Regions from separate parts of the Homo sapiens genome. Here region 2 is linked to region 1. The links come from fine-mapping of genetic effects on gene expression. Tissue or cell type: whole blood. Region 1 holds a variant in brackets; the other region holds the start of a gene. All regions are shown on one strand. Distances are between the middles of the regions.

Region 1 (8,105 bases):
CCAGCCCCTTTTCGTCTGCTGGCGGATGGTCTGTCTGCTCCACTCTGAGCCACCCTGGGTTCCTGCAGCATCATCACCCTCTGTGGCCAGGATTTGGTTACAGGCCTATGTGTCCACCAGACTGTGGCTCCTCAAGGGCCCCATCCCAGCATAGAGCCCAGTGCATGGGGCAGGCTGAGCTGGGAAATGAAGAGTGAATGAGTCAGTGAATAAATGAATGAACAGACTGACCACAGGATCTGAGCTCGCACTGGGTTCTGCGCATCCTGGGGCAGCGGCTCTGGAGCTCAGGCCTGTGGAGCCCTGCAGCCTGTCCCAGGCCTGATATCGAACCTTCCCCCAGGTGACTTCTGCCTGTGCCCCCCACCTACTTGCAGGGACATAAAGCCTGATGGGTGGTATCCAGGTACTCCCCTGCAGCTGTGGAAGGCCTGGATCCCCAGAGGTGGAGCTGGGTGAGGAGGAAGTGGGGAGGGCCCAGCTACCCAGCAGCCCAGCACCTGGACGGCCCGTCCCTCCATCCCTTGGCCCTGGCCCTTGGGCTTCCCTGTGAACTCTCCTTGGTCCCTCCTGCCTCTCTGCCTTTCTGATGCCTCGCTCCTCATCTCAAGCAGACCTGGCCTCTTTGATCCAGGCAGGCAAACAGAGCCCTTCCCTTTCCTCTGCCCCCGTCCATCCTCACAGAGAGAAGCGCGGTCTGCGTCATCAGCCACCCCCGCTGCCCACAGTGACCTCCAATCTCCAAACCCCAGGGCCTCTCAGCAGCCCCATGGAGATGCTGCCCTTTCTGCTTCCAGGAACCCCTCTTCACTGGGCATCCCTGCCTGTTTCTTTGGCCTCCTGACCACATCTCCATCTCTCTCACCTTCTGCCCCTTGCATGACGGGTTCCCAGGGTCTCTCTTTGGTTGCTTTCCCACATCCACTTGATTCTTCCCATGGGCAGTCAGACCCTCTTCTGGGGCCTCTGCCATCACCATCCCCACCCCTGCCCCTCAGTCCCAGCCCTCCCTCTGCAGCCCAGGCCTGCATTGCTGGCGGTCAGCAATGCTTCCTGTCCTGAGAAAGTGCCTGGCTCCACTCTCTTCCTGGCTGCTCAGGGGTGAAACTTGGCCTCATACCAAAAGGAGAGTCTGGGTTGCCCAGCCTAGCTGGGCGCCTGGCACTGGCGGTCAGCAATGCTTCCTGTCCTGAGAAAGTGCCTGGCTCCACTCTCTTCCTGGCTGCTCAGGGGTGAAACTTGGCCTCATACCAAAAGGAGAGTCTGGGTTGCCCAGCCTAGCTGGGCGCCTGGCACTGTCCCCCAGGGGTCTTCCTGCCTTTGCAGCCTCAGCACCTGCACCTCCTCTTCCCACATCTAGACACTCCAAAAACAGACTCAGGGCCACTCCCTGGTGGCTTGAGCTTCCCCTGTGCTGGGCCTGTGCACACACAATTGCCTGTAACTAGAAGCTTCTCCCCTTTCTCCTCCATTCCACACGTCCATCGTCTAAACCCCACCTATACCCCAAGGCCCACCTCAGTCCCTCGTTCTTCATGAAGCCCCTGCTGAGTGCACCTTTAGGCTCGCCCTCCTCCTTGCCTCCTCCAGCCCAGCAGCCCCTGGCTGGTTGCAGGCAGCGGCAAACCAGAGCGGGGTCCTCAGGGCAGGCTGCTGTGGTCGCTGCTCCACCTCTGGGCCTCCCTTAGGGTTTGCCGGATTAGCCAAAGCAGTGCAGGTGGCCCCGGCTGCCAGGGAGGGAGGCCCTGGGCCTGGAGGAGGTGCCCACTCTCCACGACCGCCTGGAGGGGCCTGCTGGCCAGAGGCTGCCCCTACCACTTCTCAGGCTCACACCGTGGTCTGTTCATTTGTTCATTTGTTTGTTCAGACATGGTAGACGCCCCCTGGCATATTCAGGCTGGTGGAAAGGGCGCCACTGTGACAGTGCAAAGCATGAGGCTTGCTGAGAGGATCTATCAAACCCAGCCAGAGGGCATCCAGGGTGGTCTACAAAACCCACAGCACAGGACAAAGGCAGACACACACACACGGTGAGAACTCTCACAAGCAAGAAGCAAGGGCGGGATGATGGGGTGGAACCCAGGGGGTGTCCTGCACTTTCAGGAGAGATGGCTGCTTGAGGGTGGCTACAGGGTACCCGGTCAGGGACGTGATGTGTGATTCATGCGGTCAAGCCAGAGCTGGACTCAGAAACAGCGCAGACAACCCGGGGGCAGAGGGCATTTCTCCCTTACCCCGTGGCTGGGACTTGGTGAGCAATATCCCAACAGCGCCTGCACCTGCTGCAGCATCCCTGGGTATCAGGGCAGCTTCCTCTCCTGGAATCTAGATATGATGGCCATGAGCCCCAAATCCTATGGCTCCTGGGAGCGAGGCCCTTCTGGAGGCCTTTGTGACTGCTGGGTTAGAACTCGTGCTCATCCATTATCCCCGGTTTTGGCTACTAGACAGTTTTGAGGATGCACGTGTATTCAAGGACATCCATGGGAAGAGAGATGAAGAGAAAATGAACATAAATTATGTTAGTGGCCCCTCATGGGGCCTGGAGGTCAGTGTGGGTGGTGACAGGCATGCGCCTAACTCAGGCACTAAGGAAGGAAGAGGGAGGAAGTGGGGAATGGCTCTGAGGCTAGAGAGGGAGGGTGAGCCTCTCTCCCTAGGGTCTTGCAGGGATTGGGGGTGGCAGGAGCCCAGATGGGGCAGCAGTGTCCAGGGGTCAGGATTTGAATGTGCATGGCCTCTGACTATGCACTCCTGGGGTAGGGCAGGGCCTGGGAGGGCTTGGCAGACGTGGCCTTCTGCATGCCTCTCTGCTGAGGTTGGGGCACGAGGCTAGGCCAGCCAGAATTTTTGGGCCACCTCTGGCTGAGCACAGAAGGCAGCTGTCCCCAGTGGAGGGGTGGGGGCCTTGGCCCTTGGAAGCAGGTCATGGGATGTGGATGCTTAGATATGTGCGGACGTGAGCAGCTCTGCAGTCCTTGGCCCCTGGCTGGCCAGCCCCGGCGCCAGGCCTGACTTCCCCTCCTCCTGACACTGCCAGGCTGGAGGCCAGTGGCTGACCGAGCAGGCTCTGCCTTGGGCTGAGCTGGAGTAGGGAGGGTCTGCAGGACTAAGGAAAAGTCCACTGCTAAAGCTATGGCAGCCTCCATCTCATCAGCCTCCTAATTAAAGTGACACTGCACAGTGCCTGCCAAATTCATTGGATGTTGACCCCAGGATGTGGTGGCCCTCCCAGGACTAGGGGAAGAGGCAGGTGGGCTTCCTGGCCACCTAAGGCAGCCTGAGAGCTGCCCATGAGTGGGGTGGGAGGGAGGGCAGCTGTGTAAGCTACACTGGGCTCGGAGAGACAGGAGATGTGAGTCCCTGTCCCTGCCTGTTCCTTATAAGTGGTGTGGTCTTGGGCAAGCAGCTTCCCTCCTCTCTAAGGAAGTTATGAGGTCAGTTACACTCTTGGGAGTGGAGAAGCTTCCTTTGTAAACTGTGAAGTGCTGCCAGAATGGGAGGTGGAGAGGAGAGCTGGCCTTCCAATCGATGACCTGATGACCTCAGCTGGCCAAGCAAAGAGGTCCTGGGGGACAGGCAGGTGTCTTGGCCCTCTCTCCATTTTGTCCCCTTGCAGACTAGCCGTGGGCTGGGGTAAGTATGAGTCCAAGACTGGACCCCGGCCTGGCCAGGACACAGGCTTGGAGCCTTGCATTTTGCAGGCTGGAAGGACATCCTTGAGAGAAGAGCTATTACCAAGGCGGGATGGATCTGATAGCTTTGTGAAGTGATCAGCAAAGAGTGAGCACCCAGGCTGTCCAAACCTCAGGCCTTGGAAGAAGTGTGGCACTCGCAGGACTGCCTGCTCATGGCAAGGCACCAAGGTACGACCTTGTGTGGGTCACGGGAGCCGCACAAGCCAATACTCTTACCTTTTGCCTGGAAAGGCCTGGAGATGCAGGCCCACCTGGGCCACCTGAGTTACGCACAAGTGTGTTAGTTCAGCACCTCCTCCCCTGCAGATAGACCTCTTGCCCAGGATCACAGGGATGGTCAGTAATAGCCCGAGCCAGGACTCCAGGGCTTAGGGCCTGGGCAGCTGCCGGAGGTGGGGGGTTGTCTACCTTG[T/C]GGCCCCTCCCAGAAAACATGCTTGTAATTTGGAACTCTGGTTGTGCAGCCGCCCCGTTGGCAGCTTGAGAGGAGCACGTGTTGGTGAGAAGGAACATGGCATCCTCTGCCTTGCTCTGGTCTGGCCTCTCATCCTGCGATGCAGGGGCTCCATCCACAACTCTCTGTGAAGAAGAAATACAGACTTTCTCAGACAAACGAAAATTGAGGAAATTTATTGTCAGTACACGTGCCTTGTAAGAAATATTGAAAGTTCTTCAAAGAAAAAGAAAAACATGTAAGTCAGAAACTTGGATCTATATAAAGAAAGAGAGCACTGAAGAAGGAATGAGGGAGGATAAAATAGAAAGTGTTTTTTTTTTATTCTGAATTGATCTAACAGGTAACAGTTTGTTCAAAATAATAATAGCAACAATATATTCAATTATTTAATCGTATATGTATATTATACACATAGAAACATATACTTAAGTATGCTTATGTATGAGTAAAATAAATGAGAGCAGACATAAGAGGCAGGAGGCAGGAATTGGGATTATTTTGTTATTATAAGATACTTGGTACAACCCATGAAGTAGTATTTGGTATTTGAAGATGGATTTGCATTAGTTGTAGACGTATACTGCAAATCTAGGGAAAATACTGAAACAAGTGAAAAAAATAAGAAGAAAAGTATTTTTTTTAAAAAGGAAGTTGTCTTAGTGCGCTTGGGCTGCTATAACAAAATACCTCAGACTGCATAATTTATAAATAATACAAATTTATTTTTCATAGTTCTGGAGGCTGGGAAGTCTAAGATCAAGGGAAGAGCAGATTTGGTGTCTGATAAGGGCTCACTCTCTGCTTCCAAGGTGGTACCTTCCTGCTGTGTCCTTGCGTGGTGGAAAAGATGAATAGCCCCCTCTCACCTATTTTGTTAAAGCACTAATCCATTATTGAGGGCTCCACCCTCATGACTTAATCACCTCCTAAGGGCCTCATTTCTTATCATATTGGTGGTTACATTTCAACATATGAATTTTGGGGGAACATATTCAGACCATAGCAGAAATATGCTGACTATTTATTTTTTGGTCATATAAAATGCTCAATTAAAAACCACAAAAGGCAGAAAAAGAGTGGGAGGAAAAATAGAGGAACAAATAACAAGGCAACAAATAGAAAAACAGTAACGGGTATGGTAGATATTAATCTATGTCAATAATAATTTTGAATGCCAATGGTGTAAATATACTAAGACAGAGATTCTGCAAAGCAAAAGAAACTATCAACAGGGTAAACAGACAACCCATAGAATGAAAGAAAATGTTTACAGCCTATGCATCTAACAAAAATCTAATGTCTTGAATCTATATGGAACTTAAACCCACAAGCAAAAAACAAACAACCCCATTAAAAAATGGGCAAAGAACATGAACAGACACTTCTCACTTGATCTTAGCCAAAAGGCCGAGAAGCGATGAACAGACACTTCTCAAAAGACATCTGCACTGGCAACAAGCATAGAAAAAATACTCAATATCGATAATCAAATCAAAACCACAATGAGATACCATCTCATACCACTCAGAATGGCTATTATTAAAAAGTCAAAAAATAACAGATGCTGGAGAGGTTGTGGAGGAAAGAGAATGCTTATACACTGCTGGTCAGAACATAAATTAGTTCAGCCACTGTGGAAAGTAGTCTGGAGATTTATCAAAGAACTTAAAACAGAACTACCATTCAACCCAGCAATTCCATTCCTGGGTGTATACCCAAGGTTATGTAAACCATTCTACTGTAAAGACACATGCAGGCATATGTTCATCGCAGCACTATTCACAATAGCAAAGACATGGAATCAACCTAGATGCCCATCAATGATAGACTATATATACACTATGGAATACCACAGAGCCATATAAAAGAATGTAATCAATGTCCTTTGCAGCAACATGGATAGAGCTGGAGGCCATCATCTTAAGTGAATTAACACAGAAACAGAAAACCAAATACTGCATGTTCTCACTTATCAATGGGAGCTAAACACTGAGTATACACAGACACATAGAAGGGAACAACAGACATCCGGGGGCTACTTAAGGGTGGAGGCTGGGAGGAGGGTGAAGATTGAAAAACTACCTATTGGGTAATCTGCTTATTACCTGGGTGACAAAATGTCCTGTACACCAAACTCCCATGACATGAATTTACCCATGTAATAATAAACCTTCACATGTACCCGTTGAACCTAATATAAAAGGTGGAAAGAAAAATAAAATAAAAGAGATTATCAGAGTAGATTAAAAAAACCAGACCCAGCTATATGTAGTCTACAAGAAACCCATTCTAAATATAAAGATGCATCTAGATTAAAATTAAAGTGATGGAGAAAGATACACCATACAAATATTTAACTAAAACACCCCCCAGAATATCTGTATTAATTCAGGCAGAGCAGACTTAAAGAGCAAGGAAAGTTACCAGAGATAAAGAGGGGCATTACATAAGAAAAAGGAGTCAGTTCTCCAAGAAGACATAACAATCCTGAATGTGTGTATGCACCTAACAACAGAGCATAGAAATATGTAAGGGAAAAATTGACAGAACTGCAAGGAGAAACAGATGAATCCACTACTAAAGCTGAAGACTTCAACACTCGTTGATCAGAAATCGGCAGACGGAACAAGCAGAAAATCAGTAAGAACACAGTTGAACTCAACAACACCAGCAATCAACTGGATAAAATGGACATCTATAGACTACTTCATCCAACAACAGAAAATTACACATTCTTCTCAAGCTCACATGGAACATTCACCAAGATACCACATTTTAGGCCATGAAACACACCTTAATAAATTTAAAGAATATACATCATATACTATCTGCTGTCAGACCACAACAGAATTAAACCTCAAATCAATAAAAGGAAGATAGCTGGAAGCCATCAAAATATCTGGAGATTGAACAATACACTTCTGAGTAATATCTGGGTCAAAGAAGAAACATAGAGAAATTAAGCAATGTTTTGAACTAATGGAAATGAAAATACAACTAATAAAAATGTGTGGGATGTAGCAAAAGCAGTGATTGGGGGAAATTTATAACATTGAATGAATTAAAGTGATTATTAGATTCTATATTAGAAAAGAATATCGAAGATCAGTAATCTAAGCTTCCGCCTTAGGAAAGTAGAAAAAAGAGTAAATTAAATCCAAAGTAAGCAGAAGAAAGTAAATAATAAAAATTAGAATAGATATCAATGAATTGAAAACAGGAAATCAGTAGAGAAAATCAGCAAAATCAAAATCTGTTTATTTGAAGGTAGGTGAAACTGATAAGCCTCCAGCCAGGCTAAGAAAAAAAGAGGGAAGACACAAATTACTAATATGAAAAATGAAAGGGTGACATCACTAATGGCCTTTTATGGACACTGAAAGGATCATAAAGGACTATTATGAAAAACTTGATGCCCACAAATCTGATAACCTAGGTGAAATGGAAAAATTCCTTGAAATATACATTCTGTCAAAATTCATTCAAGAAGAAATAGACAATCTATGCTGAAGGATGGTGGTTCATGCATGTAATCCCAGCACTTTGGGAGGCTGAGGTAGGAGGATCTCTTGAGGCCAGGAGTTTGAGACCAGCCTGGGCAACATAATGAGACCCTGTCTCTACAAAACATAAAAAATTTGATGGGTGTGTTAGTGCGCACCTGTTGTCCCAGCTACTTGGGAGGCAGAGGTGGGAGGATTGCTTGAGCACAGGATGTCAAGGCTGCAGTGAGAGGTGATTGTGCTACACCAGCTTGGGTAACAGAGTGAGATCCTGTCTCAAAAAAACAAAAAAAAAAACAAACAAAAAAAAACAATCCGAACAGGTCTATCTGTGTTAAAGAAACCAAGCCAATAATTAATAACCTTTCAAAACATAAAGTACCAGGCCCAGATAGATTCACTGGTGAATTCTACCAAAAATTCAAGGAAGAAATTATATCAATATTCTAC
Region 2 (8,105 bases), 560 kb after region 1:
TCCTCAGAGCAGGCTTGGGTCCCCAGTGTAAGAATGAACAGACAGCCCTCCCACATCATGTAGTGTGGATGGTGGGGCTGCAGGGCATGTCGTGCTCTTGCCGGTGGGCTGCCAGAGACATGTCAGACCCACTTCTTAGTGAGGGCCCATTCATTTCCTCTCTGGGTTGCATTTCATCATAATCACTCGGTACCCACGATTCTTCCTGACAGCCTGAAACAGCAGGCTTTGCATCCTTTTCAGGCCTGGGGTCTGGTCCTACCCCAGGGGCTTCTGTTTCACCCACAACAGATTCGCCTCCATGCCAGAGACACTGCTGACAGCAGGGAGAGAAGCGAAAAGAGGGGTCCAGCACAGCCCTTCTGCATTCATATATCCTATTTTCCATCCAACATCACAAACTCCTTGTCTCCTGCTCCCAGGAGGAACCTTGGGTCTCAGGAGTGGTCAATGCTGAGATGACAAAGCCATTGCAATTCTGATCTCCATAGTCTTGAGGCCTCTAGTGTTGCCAGGAGGCTGTCAGGAGGAGCTTGAGAAGAAAGAGGCCCACGATGTTTCACAATGTTTATCCCAAGTGGAGCCAAGGGACAGCCTCTGCACACCGAGGTAATTCCAGATGAATTGCTCCACGCTGTTCCCTCCTCCTTTCTGGTGTTTAGTGCTGGCTGACTGTAGAACACTTTATTCACAGAAGCAAGTAGAAAAAAATGTCACTCTTAGTTCACATGCTCCAACGTCAGACTGGGAGTGACCGGTTCTGGAGGGAAGAACCAGGACTGGCTCACTTGTGTTCTCATCAGCCACCTCCACGCACACGGAGGTGGATTTCACTGGTGTCAATACACGCATTCACATCCATGAGAGGCCACTCAGAGGGGCAGAAGCAACTTCACACCCACCATAAAGCCACTTCTGCTGCCAGAGTCCCCAGTCTCCAATCACCAAGAAATTCTCCACCAAGGGGCAAGCTCCAGCCATCTAACTTGTAATCAGTAGCATCAACATTGTCTGAGAAATGTTTATTCTGTCCAGTTTAAGCTTACTTTACACAAACACTAAAAACTAGTAAAATAGATTTTAGCTTTTCCTCTAACTATATTTATATATAAATCCCTGAGAAGGTAGCTGTCAACTTGAAATTCACTATCTACAGCTCCCCGGAAGATCAGACTTCCCAGTCCCACCAGAGCGCCCCATGCAGCTGTCATTTTCTCTCAAGTTGCATACACTGGCCAGGTAAAGGCAGCTTCTACTCAGCAGGCAAGTGGCCCTCTCACCTTCAGATTTGCCAAAGAAATCCGGGTCCTGCCCTACACTTGCTGGCTCGGCAGGCTTTTCAAAATGCAGGTATCTCTGGAGCCATTTTGTGAACACCAGGAGCATCACTGGACAAGCCCTGTGCTGGCCCCAGGGTACTCTGTGCACCTGGGTAAGGCTGGAACACACTGGGGACAGGGACCCAACATACTCACTCCGCAAGAGCGTGGGACCTGGGGAAATCGCCAGTTGTTTGCTGTCCTGCCATTGCCGTTCTACACATCCCTGGAGACTATGAGCATGGGTTGTGGTGCCGTAGTGGCTGGGCAGTATCAGAAATGTCCATTTTTCACCTGGAAGCAGCAGACACCCAAGGCTCAGGGTAGAAGTGGGGGCTCCATACCATTCCCAGTGCCAACTTCCCATGGCAGAAACAGGAAGGAATGTCTGGCAACCCACCAAGGGTCAGACGCCACATCAGCCTGAGCAGAAGCTGCCTGACACTGGCTGTTCCAATGACAATTAGACGTTCTTGGGAAGGTGGCGCCCTTTGTGGGAGCTCAGGATGGGTGTCCTGGAAGTGCCACTTAAATGGCACTGAGGCCTCTCAAAATCCCTGTGTTAGAGCTGCAGCTCTCCATGTGGGCTGCAGTGCAGTCACCTATGGAGCTTTAGGACAGGCCCAAGGCTCAGTTCCCTGGGCCAGTGCCTCAATAACTTTCGCAGTTCGGCTTGGAGAAGCGAGCCTGGGAGACCACGTGGCACTGCCTGGCTGGGTCCTGGGCTGACAGAGGTGAGCGTGGGGCTTGTGGTGACTTGGTAATGCTGTGAATTATGTACGTGTGGCAGGAAGGTGCCACAGTGCTAAGGCCCCGCATCTTGGAAATTCCATAGGGTCCACATGAGGATGAACTAAACACCAAATGCAGTCCTCAAAGGAATAATAAAACAAATACCCACATAAGGGAATCTCTGGAACTGAGTCTGGAAGAGGGGGCTGCCTGGTCCACTCCAGGAGAATTTGCCTAAAACAAGTTTGCTTCTCATTGCATTCTCTTTGCTTCTTCTAAACATCACCTCCTCTAGAGGTTACATTACACCCCATTCCTGTAATTTACATCATTCTGGGCTCCTTACTCTTGTTGCATCCTTTTTTACATTTTAAGGATGCCTAGATTCGATTTACTTAAGAGCATATACGGCTTAATTTTATATTTCTGGTAATCATTTATTACATTTCCCCCATTTTATCAAATGACACATTTTTCTCATGTCTATTTTAATATGTTAAAGATTTTTGTATACAGTTTATCTAAAACTCCTTGCTTAAAATGAGTTTAATTCTAGCAATACAGACATGCCTATCTCTGCATTGTTTTATAATTTGACGATAAATGTTTTTCCTCAATATATGACTGTATTGGATAATACTTTTTAAAAAGATACAATAAAATCTGATCTCTCTGTCTCACTTGATCATGTGGCTGAACCAGTCAATCCCTCCATCAAATAGAAATATCCGGCATCACTTAATCTAATTAATAAAAACATCCACCCATGATGAGAAGACCAAAGCAAACAGCCCAAAAAGGAGAGAATCCCATGATTTCTGTGTAAAGTCCTACAGATATCATAAATATTTATTGCTGGAAACAGTGTTTTAAATAAAAGGTCTTCAGGTAAGTGTATAAAAACTTCCTTGGATACAAGGGACCCTATCACTTGTAAAACTTGGCAAATTGGACAACAATTAAAAATACAAAATTACACAGAAAATATCCTTTAATAAATTGATTTTTTTTTAATTGAGACGGAGTTTGGCTCTTGTTGCCTAGGCTGAAGTGCAATGGCGCCATCTTGGCTCCCTGCCACCTCTGCCTCCAGGGTTCAAGCGATTCTCCTGCCTCAGCCTCCCGAGTAGTTGGGATTACAGGCATGTGCCACCACGCCCGGCTAATTTTGTATTTTTAGTAGAGATGGGGTTTCTCCATGTTGGTCAGGCTAGTCTCAAACTCCTAACCTCAGGTGATCCGCCCGCCTCGGCCTCCCAAAGTGCTGGGATTACAGGCGTGAGCCACCGCGCCTGGCCTAATAAATTAATCTTTAAAAAAATCTTAATTGAGGTTCTCTAAAGGGAGCCTTTTAGGGAACATGCCCCCTAGGTGTACTGATTGCTAGGGTGGCTGGTGTGAAGCGAATCGATGTGGCTCCCCCAGCCCCTTTCTGGGAGCATCCTAGAGAGACAGCGTGGAAACGCGCGCTGCCCGGTGGTCCCGAGAGCTGCCATGGTGCCCAGCCCCGCGGCCTCACCCAGCCCTCAAACCCCGTGCCAAGCACCCGCGGACTCTCACGTCCTCTTCTTCCAGGGCGGCGGGCGCTTCTCCTGCACCTTGGCCTGGCGCCTCTTCTCGGCCTCCTCCGCCTCCCGTTTCTCCTCCTTGGCCACCTTGTAAGGCCACTTGGGTATCCGCAGGTGGCCGCTGCCTTTATGCTGCCCTTCCGCGCCGGCCTTTTGGGTTGGAAGGTGGGCGCGGGCACCTTGCTGAGGCGGACCTGGGCACCACCACGCTGGGCCCCAAGCTGCTCTGCTGCAGGCACTGCAGGGGCAGGAGGCTGGCCGTCCGCGGGGCGGGGGCGGCGGAGCCCCAGGACCCCGGCAGCCGGGCAGGTGGGAGGCCGGCTCTTGGGGAGGCCTTTGTGGAGCCAGCGGCCGCTAGGCCGAGCGGCTTATGCTACTCTGCGCCCTCCTCTTCGCCCGCCTCCTGCGCCTGCCTCCCCCCACCCCTCGCCGCGCCGCCGGAATTTCCTGCGCCGCCAGGATTTCCTGCACCGCCAGCCGCCTCTTCCCCCAGCACAAGGTGCTCTCGGGGCACATAGTCTGGCACGCGAGGGCCCCGGCGGGGCTGTTAGAGGCTCGTGGTCATCCTGACCATGTGGTCCAGGGCGCCCCGGTCCTCTGGGCCCCGCATGGAGCGCGGCGTCAGCGCGGACAGCTCGCAGTCCCTGAGCCTCTGCAGGCAGTTCTTGGAGCCCTCGGGCTTTTGCGGCCTCTCGGGGAGCGGCGGCAGCTCAAGCTGGTACTTTTTCCCCAACAGCTCCCGGCAGGGGCGCTCCAGGAGCCTCTGCATGAGGCGGACGTATAAGTGGCCACTCCTCTGGCGACATCCCACGGCGGGGGCCCTCGCGTGGACACCCGCCCCTGCTAGCTCAGGGCTCCGATGCGATCCGTTCGACCCTGCATGGCGGCTTTCAACCCGAACGCGTCCCTCCTTCAAGATCAAGACCCTGAACGTAGTTCAACAAGTAGTTGGTGATGATAGCGTGCCCTGACTGGGCCAGGATAGCCTCTTTAGTAAAACAGCCACGAAAGTCATGAAACAGATGCTCAGCTCCTTTCTTCATTTTCACTTTAATTCGGTGATGCCTCTGTGTCTGTCTGACGACATCTCTCCTGGGGTCTGTGATTCTGCTGATGGTCTTCAGTGCCTACTGAGAAGGGTTCCTGGACATCATCAGGTATGAAAACCTCAAAGCTCTCGGTCCTCAACGTGAGAACCCTGGGCCAGCGGCATCAGCCTCACCAGGAAACCTGTTCTTCTGCTCATTCTTGGGCCCCACCCCAGGCCTATTCAAAGAAAGACTCCAGGGGCAGGGCCTGGCAGCCTGTGTTTCCACCAGATCTGTGTTAAAGCTCAAATGAACCAGCCCACGTGATGCTGACCAGGAAGCACAAGGCTGAGAGCCAGTGTCCAAGGCAACGGTGCCCATGGGGCCAGAGGCAGCTCCTGCCTGTGCAGCTGTATTTAGGGCTGCGTTCCCCTCCCTGTCCTGCCAGTTGACGTCAGTGTGGGGTTACTCAGCTAAGGCCACCACGGTATATCCACAAAGCCGTGGTAGCAGGCGACATTAAGGCTGGTCCAGCCATTGTGGTCAGTCTCCTGCGCCTTCTCAACGCTCACCCCTCGCCGCACCAGCGTCCGCAGCAGCCCCATGCCTCCTGGACGCCCTCCTCCGGGACGCTCTCCAAGCCCTCGACGCCGTGCTCCTCCTCGTCCTGGAAAGGGTACAGAGTCGTCCCAGGCTATGCTGCAGGTGTGGGGCCCTGGAACTCTTTGTAGTCAGCGCGGTCCTCCTCGACCTGTGCGCCTAGGAGTGGGGACGGCGGTGGCGGGGTCATGCAGCGCTCCCAGCCACCCTGCGGCCGGGTCCCAGCCAGCAGCACCATGCCAGCGGCCGGAGGCGTGGGCTGGGGGCCGGGGCACCGTCCCGGAAAACCGGGCGCGCCCCAAGGTCCCTGCTTCTCGCTTCCGCGTCCCCAGAGAAGCCGTAGCTCCCGCCCCCAGCCCGGCAGAAACCTCCTTTCTTTACATTATTAAGTTTGTTTTCATTTTAATTTTCTTAGGACATTGATAAAATCACTTTCGGATTTTTGAGATTAAAAATTAAATAATTTTCATCTTTACCCTTTTTAAATTTTTCACACTTTATTTTAATGCTTTTATTCTTTTGTAAATTTTAATTATTGTAATTTATATCTTCAATTATTATGGAAGAATTTTAGAAAAGTCTTTTCACATAATAAAGACTAATTAATGAACTATTATTTATTCTCTCCTCTATCTCAAATACGGACTTTAAACTTTTAGAACACTTTTTGTTTTGAGACTCTTGTTACTTATGTGACATTTTAACTATTCACTCTTCTAGTGAATTTTTAATGTCATTCAAAGGGTACATCTTTCTACACTGAGAATTAAACAAAGTTCTCAAAAATATTCTCAGATAATTTAGAATTTCACCTTCCACTGGCATGTTAAGTATGTTCTCCTTCCCTTCTAATGCATATTTTCCTCACACGTCCTCATGTTATACTCCTTATTCACCCTCCATGCAAGAGGTGATTTTATTTATTTATTTATTTATTGAGACAGAGTCTCAGTCTGTCACCGAGGCTAGAGTGCAGTGGCATGATCTCGGTTCACTGCTATCTTTGCCTCCTTGGTTCAAGTGATTATCCTGCCTCAGCCTCCATAGTAGCTGGGATTGCAGGTGTGCACCACCATGCCCCGCTAATTTTTGTATTTTAGGTAAAGACAAAGTTTTACCATGTTGAACAGGCCAGTCTTGAACTCTTGACCTAAAGTGATCCACCTGCCTTGGCCTCCAAAAATGCTGAGATTACAAAAACAGCAACTAAACGCTGGAATGATGACTGGGAACTTGTCTAGAGTCTCCAGTGATTATCCTCCTTATAACAAGGCAGAAAGCCTTCCTCAGAATTATCTGGACTGACATCACTCATTGTCCAGACCTGTTAACAGCAACAAGTGCTGTGAGTCTCAAATGTGCTCCTTCAATAATGCAGTAGAAGGCCTGAGTTTCCACATAATAGTATCCTTGAATGCCTGGAGACTTAAGGCACAAGAATGTATTGATCCTATGAACTTTATGTTTTGTAAAATTTCAGATTATGTGAGGTGTTTGGACAAATTAAGTTTCAGGGTGATATCCACTATTGAGACAGAAAATTAGTTTAAAGAATTAAGACCTCAAAGTCCAGAATGAGAAAAAATTGTTTTTCTTAGAGCCTCCTTATAACTGTCTTATTTGTTTTATAGATGTAAGTACTAGAGGACAAGCTCTACCTGATATAGCTGGCCTAGACATATGCAGATTTATTAATTGTAGAAGAAATAATTATACCTTTCAGGTAAAATGGCTATGCAAAATAATTAGTTGCTGTTTTTGAGACAAGTTCTCACTCTGTCACCCAGGCTGGAGTGCAATAGCACAATCAGAACTCACTGCAGTCTCAAACTCCCAGCTGGTCTCAAGCAATCCTCCCAACTCAGCCTCCTGAGTAGCTGGGACAACAGGTGCACACCACCACTCAAGGCTAATTTTCTTTTTATTTTTGGTAGAGATAAGGTCTTACTATGTTGCCCAGGCTGATCTCAAACTCCTGGCCTCAAGTGATTTTTCTGCCTTGGCCTCCCAAAGCACTGGGATTATAAGTATGGCCACTGTTACCAGCCTTAGATCATTTTTTTTAATACAGATAGCTTCCCAACTAAAAATATTTTATTAGAATTCTCTGAATTCAGCAAAGCAATGTTATTACTGACCCAGTCTTCACTTATTTTCAGCTGACATGGAAGAACAAAATTACCTTTATTTTTAAATTTATTTTATTTTATATTTTCAAGGTGCAAAGTATGTTGTTTTGAGACACATATACATAATGAAATGATTACTATAATGAAGAAAATTAACAAATCTATCATATCACTTAGCTGTGCTTCTTTTTTATGATAAGAACACCAAAAATCTAGTCCCTCAGAATATTTCCCAAAAACAATACATTATCAAATATGCCTACAGGTTGTACATCAGATTCACTTATTCTACTACGCCTTTACAACTTTTGCCCTTCATTTACCTATTTCCTTCCCACCAATGTAACCACCTTTTTTAATGTATTGAACTTTTAAAAATAGATTTCAAATATGAGTGGAACCATGAAGGATTTTTCTCTGTGTGTCTGTCTTATTTCACTTAGGAAACGTGCCATTTACATGCCTCCTAAATTTAGTACAGAAATAGAGTGCTAGTCAAGAATGTGTCTCAGTGTTGTTATATTAATTTTTTCCAAGTTATCCTCTTTATCAATTTTTACTTTTTGTACTATAGAAAAGTCAAAATTATTGTATTAAAAAATCTGTAACAAGGCTATTGATAAATAACTTCTTTTAGGGATAGAAAACTCAGGAAGTTCAAGATTTCTGGATTAATGATTGACAATGTTCTTAGTGGTCCCTCTTTGATTTATTTCAATTGTAAGTAAT

The links. PIP is the estimated chance that this variant, and not a neighbour inherited with it, causes the effect.
Region 2: it holds the start of LINC03052, and the variant in region 1 is fine-mapped to the expression of LINC03052 in whole blood (INTERVAL, PIP above 0.99).

What each region holds. Positions count from the first base shown.
Region 1 is chr2:96,078,312-96,086,416 of GRCh38, reverse strand. No RefSeq gene overlaps it. Among named protein-coding and RNA genes, the nearest start is that of ADRA2B, 34 kb to the left of the region's middle. The variant T/C (reference allele first, on the strand shown) is at 4,111.
Region 2 is chr2:95,522,726-95,530,830 of GRCh38, reverse strand. It overlaps LINC03052 (long intergenic non-protein coding RNA 3052), which reads left to right and starts at 4,077. Exons shown (of 1, transcript NR_182300.1): 1 at 4,077-5,958. It also overlaps the pseudogene ANKRD33BP1. RefSeq lists an enhancer at 3,538-3,667 and a silencer at 3,808-4,097.